2 separate regions of the Homo sapiens genome follow, and region 1 is linked to region 2. The links come from fine-mapping of genetic effects on gene expression. Tissue or cell type: spleen. Region 2 holds a variant in brackets; the other region holds the start of a gene. All regions are shown on one strand. Distances are between the middles of the regions. Region 1 holds the start of LINC01094 (long intergenic non-protein coding RNA 1094). Region 2 holds the start of LOC124900721 (a long non-coding RNA gene).

What was found. PIP is the estimated chance that this variant, and not a neighbour inherited with it, causes the effect.
Region 1: LINC01094 starts here. The variant in region 2 is fine-mapped to the expression of LINC01094 in spleen (GTEx, PIP 0.90).

The regions. Positions count from the first base shown.
Region 1 is chr4:78,644,270-78,647,189 of GRCh38, forward strand. LINC01094 (long intergenic non-protein coding RNA 1094) reads left to right here and starts at 1,725. Exons shown (of 3, transcript NR_038308.1): 1 at 1,725-1,994. RefSeq lists an enhancer at 1,362-2,561.
Region 2 is chr4:78,612,793-78,615,712 of GRCh38, forward strand. LOC124900721 (a long non-coding RNA gene) reads left to right here and starts at 2,001. Exons shown (of 2, transcript XR_007058152.1): 1 at 2,001-2,920. The variant T/G (reference allele first, on the strand shown) is at 1,288.

The DNA of each region.
Region 1 (2,920 bases), 31 kb after region 2:
ATATTTAGGCATGCTGTCACACAGAGTCCAACAAAATGGTTTTAGAAATTATCTTTAATTCTTTTACTTACTGGGGAAAAAAATAATCCAGAAAACTATAAAGAGATAAATATTTCCTATTATCCTGTTGTTTGAAAATAACTACAGTTAGTATTTTAGTATATAGCCTATTCTACTGTTGCAAAATAGGTGCATTTCTAAGAAATCTCAACTTATCAAAAGAATGTAAAGAAACAGGTAACACTGGTTGAAATTGGAGAAGGATGGCTGGGGAATAGGGATGGAACAAAAATTTCTCATTTAGAAATACTAGCATGTGCCTTTTAGATTTTGTCCTTTAAAAGTGTATCTCCTATTAAAATTAAGCCAAATTGCAATTTAAAACTAACTTTTTTAAAAAAAAATGTTTTAATGGGAACAGAAATGTTAAAACTCACAGTAGAACAGAATTTTAAAAATAGTAATTTTAACAATAAATTTGTTTTCATAACCATAAATGTATTTGGTTATTGCTAGCTTTAATTTTAAAAAGGTAGATCAAAACCTACAAAAGGAAACACAAACTTCCTTACACTTTCCGCCACGTATTCAGCACCGTCTAATGCCTCATCACTGTTGCCATGCAGGTCTGCCTGCAGTACAGTCCATTACAGCCAGGGGAAGCAGCAGCTTTTTATCATTTCCCAGTTCCCAGTCAGTTCTGGTTATTACTAACAGTGATTCATTAAATTATGTTCAATAAGCAGCTAATTGTGCTATGTCCAATTTTTGTTAGGGACACTTTAACTGTAGGAGAAATTAATGCCTGTATAATTTTCCAAATGCTTTCCCCAGGCGTGTATACATATACTTTATATAGAAGTTATCTTTTTAAATTTGTTTTTACCAAAAAAAGAATCATAATAAACATACTACTTTAGAAGGTTTTTTTCACCCAACAAAGCATTTTGAAATTCTTCTCATTTTAACTTACCAAATTTCACCTTATCTACAATAAAAGTTTAATCCCTTATGAATGAGATTTATCTTTCAAAAAAGAAATGAATTTGCTTTTCTCCTTTCATACTGCCAGTATTTTCAGTATCTTTATGATGTTACTATACGAACATAAAAAATCAGTGTGATTCCATTACCATTTAAAGCCAGACACTAAGACCAATGGAGGCTGATATTCCTGTAGGCCATAGCAACCCTGGGAAATCTTGCCTTTGCTGAAGCTATACCAAATCCAGAAGTAATTGAAGTCCCCCTAAGGTTTCAGGTCCCCCCAAAGAAGGCAGGAGTTGTGCATTACTCAGCATTCTCAGATCTATTCTAAAGCAGATTATTTTCTTAGATTTTGATTCAATTCCATGCAATTCAAGCATTTTTATTTAATAAGTACAAGGCATTGTGCTCAAGGAGAAGTGTACAAGCTAAACTGGATCATTCTAATTTTCCTGAACACTTACAACCTCGTAGGAAGACATACATACATAAGTAAGTATGATACAAGGAAAATTTGTAAGACAAAGTAAATAAAAGTATTATAAGAAACACAGAAGAGGGATAGATTACTTTAGGCTGAGTGAGGTGGCTTTTGAGTTCCTACTAGAAGGGTGTGTAGGATTGTGACTAGAAGAGAGAGGAAGGTCTGGATGGAGCAACAAGAGTCTGGGCTATTAACACAGGTTTGAGTCAGGCTGACCGGAGCTGTAAAGCCCTTCTCGTTCTCACTGTGTGTTCTTTTCAGTTCTGTCTTCCTGAGGCTGCTGTTTCTGGGCATGGCCAGGGGATCTTCAGACTTTACAAACCAGTTGTGCAGAGCCAGGCATTTCAATAAGGAACAAAATGCTGAGTAACAACATGAAGTCAGAGTGTTGCTTGCCAAGAGCTGGGAGGCCTGGGTGGTTTCCCAATCTTAAAGAAGCAGAAGGATATTAAAGTGAGCCTCCCAAAGGAAAACGTGGATCTACTTACCAACGCAGAAAATGATACACACGGATTCGATTTAGGTAAGTGCACCCCCTGTGATGACTATTGGTCACTTCCAGATCACATGGACTAACTGTAGGTCTCAACTATTTTGACTTTTTTTTTCCAGAACAGACTAATACATAACTAACGGCTTACCTTTGTGAAAAATATTTTATGCACTGTAGAACAGATAATTTTCAGTCCTGGGCCAAAGGGGGAAACTTTGGAGAGAATTAAACAGGAAATGACTCTGCTACAAAGAATTCAGGAGCATGAGTGAAGTGAATAAACAATCCAGGCACGATTGATGAATTCTAGATGTCCTGGGAATAACAGGGCTTGTTGCCAGCTCAGATGGGTGAAATCCTACTCTGATGAAAGGCTCCAGGGCTGCAAGGAGACCACTCCTACATCCATCACATCAGTGTCACAGGTTTACCACCTGCTCAGCGATTATTCAACATCCTAAGGCCTTTTGCCCCATTACACACGTTTGACCACTTAGTCCAGGAATGAGGTACCAAATACTAGGGAGATCTCATAAAGCCTGCAGCTAAAATAAGCAGAGGAATCAGAAGCTGGACAGAGTGACCCAAGGAGGACTGGGGATAACTCAGGAGTTCCTTTTTTTTTTCTTTTTGAGATGGAGTCTCGCTCTGTCGCCCAGGCTGGAGTGCAGTGGCGCGATCTCGGCTCACTGCAGCCTCCGCCTATTGGGTTCAAGCAGTTCTCCCGCCTCAGCCTCTCAAGTAGCTGGGACTACAGGCACCCACCACTACGCCTGGCTAATTTTTGTATTTTTAGTAGAGACGGGGTTTCACCATATTGGCCAGGCTGGTCTCAAACTCCTGACCTCATGATCCGCCCGCCTCGGCCTCCCAAGGAGTTCCTTATTTTAATATTTGCTGAAAATTCTCCACCATAATTTAAACATGTAATGATAAGAAAAATATCTGCTTCTGAC
Region 2 (2,920 bases):
GGCTTCTCTGGATTCCCAGGACCATCTTCATTTACATGAATGTGCATTAGCTCTGACATGGATCACCTGCAGAATTGAGTGCATTCATGTCATCTCATTAAGCCCTAAGTTTAGTCCCTGAAGATTGAAAGAAGAGAAAAATAGCCAGCTGCAGAGAGTCCTGGGCTCTGTGGTTGGTGAGCTGCAGAAGCAGAAGGTTTGTACACTTCACGCTACAGTAACAGAATGTTTGGTCTATAAATCAGGAGCTGCAAAAATGGCAAATGAGGATGTTGAATAGGAGATTCTCTAGCCTATTTGTAAGAATGTATTGAGGAAATTTTTAAAATAGTGTACAGTAGTTCAGACATTTCTTCCATGTACCTTCCCCTATTTCCATTTCCCCAATTTCATGCCATATGGATAACCCACAGTTTTACTTTGTCTTTAAAACAATAATTTTGGGGTCATATCAAACTGGGTTCAAATCCTGGCTTCACCACTTATGGCAGCAGCGTAGATAACAGTGCTCGACAAATACTTAACCTCCATACAACTCAATTCTTTAGCTGACAATAACAGCACCTACCTTAAATATGTGCAAGGATGAAATGAAATAAAGCATGTGAAAAATTTAACTCAATAAAAATTAGTTACCAATAACTGCATTGGCATGGTGAGTTGCCAGTGAAGAGCAGATAGTAAGTGTTCAACAAGCATTTGTAGAATAAATAAGCGATACTTGTTTTAGTACTACTCAGCGACAGTAACTCTGAGGCCTTGGAAGCTTCAGAGAACTGTCAGCTGAAATCAGTGTTATTAATATGTTGTCAGTGTGTCCTCCAACGATAAGAGCCAACTGTGTTCACCTCAGTGATGAGGTTACAGGATCTGAAGAAAGTTTCCTAGTCTTATTTCCTGCCCATCAGTTGACAGTAGTATGACATGTGAGGGAGTGAGTCGCTTACTCTTTCTGTACCTTAGTTTCCTCACCTGTAAAGCCAGGATGGCCATGCAAGTATCATTCAGAGTAGGCGTGAGGTTTCAATAAGCCAGATTAGGTGATGCACTTACCACAGTGCCTGCACCCGTTAAGTGCTCAATAAACATTAGCCATTATTCTCTGGCTCAGTTTGGAAGACTTACAATTGCTTATACAGTGCTCTAATCACTTGGGGGATTTTGAGATGTTGTAAAGCTACCTCTTCTAGTTTGCAATTAGGAAAGAAGATAAAGCAAACTTCTTGGCAATTTCCTGCCTGTGAAACCTTGTGTTTTATGAGCCACGGAAAGTACCCCAAATTTTTT[T/G]TCAACCCCACCCCCAGCAAACTGACAAACTCAGATCTTTCCCACCCACTCTGTATGTCTCCCGTGGGACTGTGAGAGTCAAGCAAGTACAGGTTGCTGTGTGCTGAAGCCTTTTTACTGGTGCTATATTTCTTTCAGTTTCATCAAACTCAGCTTTGTGCCAGTTTTACCCACCAGGGCCAGCCCTCCTCTGAAACCAAAGTTTGCCTATTTCTGTAGAGTTTACAAAGTCAACAGTGAGAGAGAGGAGAATTTCAAATGAGGAGGAGGGTTACAGAGTAGGAGGTAACATTGAATGGCTGCTGCAGTAAACTGTTAAAAGAAATCCCAAACCCAGAATACCAGAGCAGCCCATTCAGCTGAAAGGTTTTATGACACAACCATGCATAAGAAAAAACTAGCTATCAAAATGTACATGTGACCTCTTTGGGCATAAACTTTGTGGAACTGGATGTGGCAATAAATAGTGGTCCAGGCCAGGCGTGGTGGCTCACCCCTGTAATCCCAACACTCTGGAAAACCGAGGAAGGCAGATCACCTGAGGTCAGGAGTTTGAGACCAGCCTGGCCAACATGGTGAAACCCTGTCTCTACTAAAAGTACAAAAAAATTAGCTGGGCGTGGTGGCAGATGCCTGTAATCCCAGCTACTCAGGAGGCTGAGGCAGGAGAATTCGCTTGAACATGGGAGAAAGAGGTTGCAGTGAGCCGAGATGGTGCCATTGCATTCCAGCCTGGGTGACAAGAGTGAAACTCTATCTCAAAAAAAAACATAGTGGTCCAAGGTGACCTGGCAGAGCATCAGACTTGCTGTGAAGCGACAGATGTGATTTGCCAATTGCTACAATATCAACCACCAGATAAAAGGAAGTTTTGAAAAAGAACATTGGGATAAAATCAGCTCCTACGAAAAAGAGCATGCCACAGTGGGGTAGAAAGTAGAGAAGAACAAAGGTCACAAGGGTAGGGAGTTGGTGAGAATTAGCCCAAATTCACCCCTCCTTTTAGAGAACTGCAGCAATCCACAGCGTAACTGGCTTGCATTGGTGCCCCTGGCCACAGACCTCAGAAGAGTTTAGAGATTTCCAAAGTTGCATTTAAATTTTTTGTTTTGTTTTGTGTCAGAGAGCCAAGTCCACAAAGAAAGTTCCAGATCATGTCTGCAAATTCTATTTAAACCGGTGTTAAATAGAATTTGACATCTGATAACTTCATGAAAAATATTTTTCTTGGTTTTTATCAGTCAAACCAAACTCCTTCCAACCTTTATTCTTCCAACATTTATTACATGGTAACTGTAGTCCAGAAACTACGCCAGGTGTTGGAGTTATAAAAGTGAAGAAAGCTACACATTTCCTGACTTCAAGGAGTTGACGATCTGGGGAATAAGCAAAGGAGAGGAAAGACAGATACTTGGCTAATTGGCAAGGACAGCATAGTGGTGATAGCGGTGGGTGGGTTTGGGGATTAAGCAAATGTGGCTTCCACACAAAATTCTCACACTCTTTGCAACTTGCAGAGTTAAAGGATAAGATATTTGAAGCAACTGCCAATTACTAGGTGTTCAGTTAAAGACTGTTAAAGTTGTATTGCACAGTGGTTAAAAGTCTGGAGTCAGCCTAGCTGGACAAATTC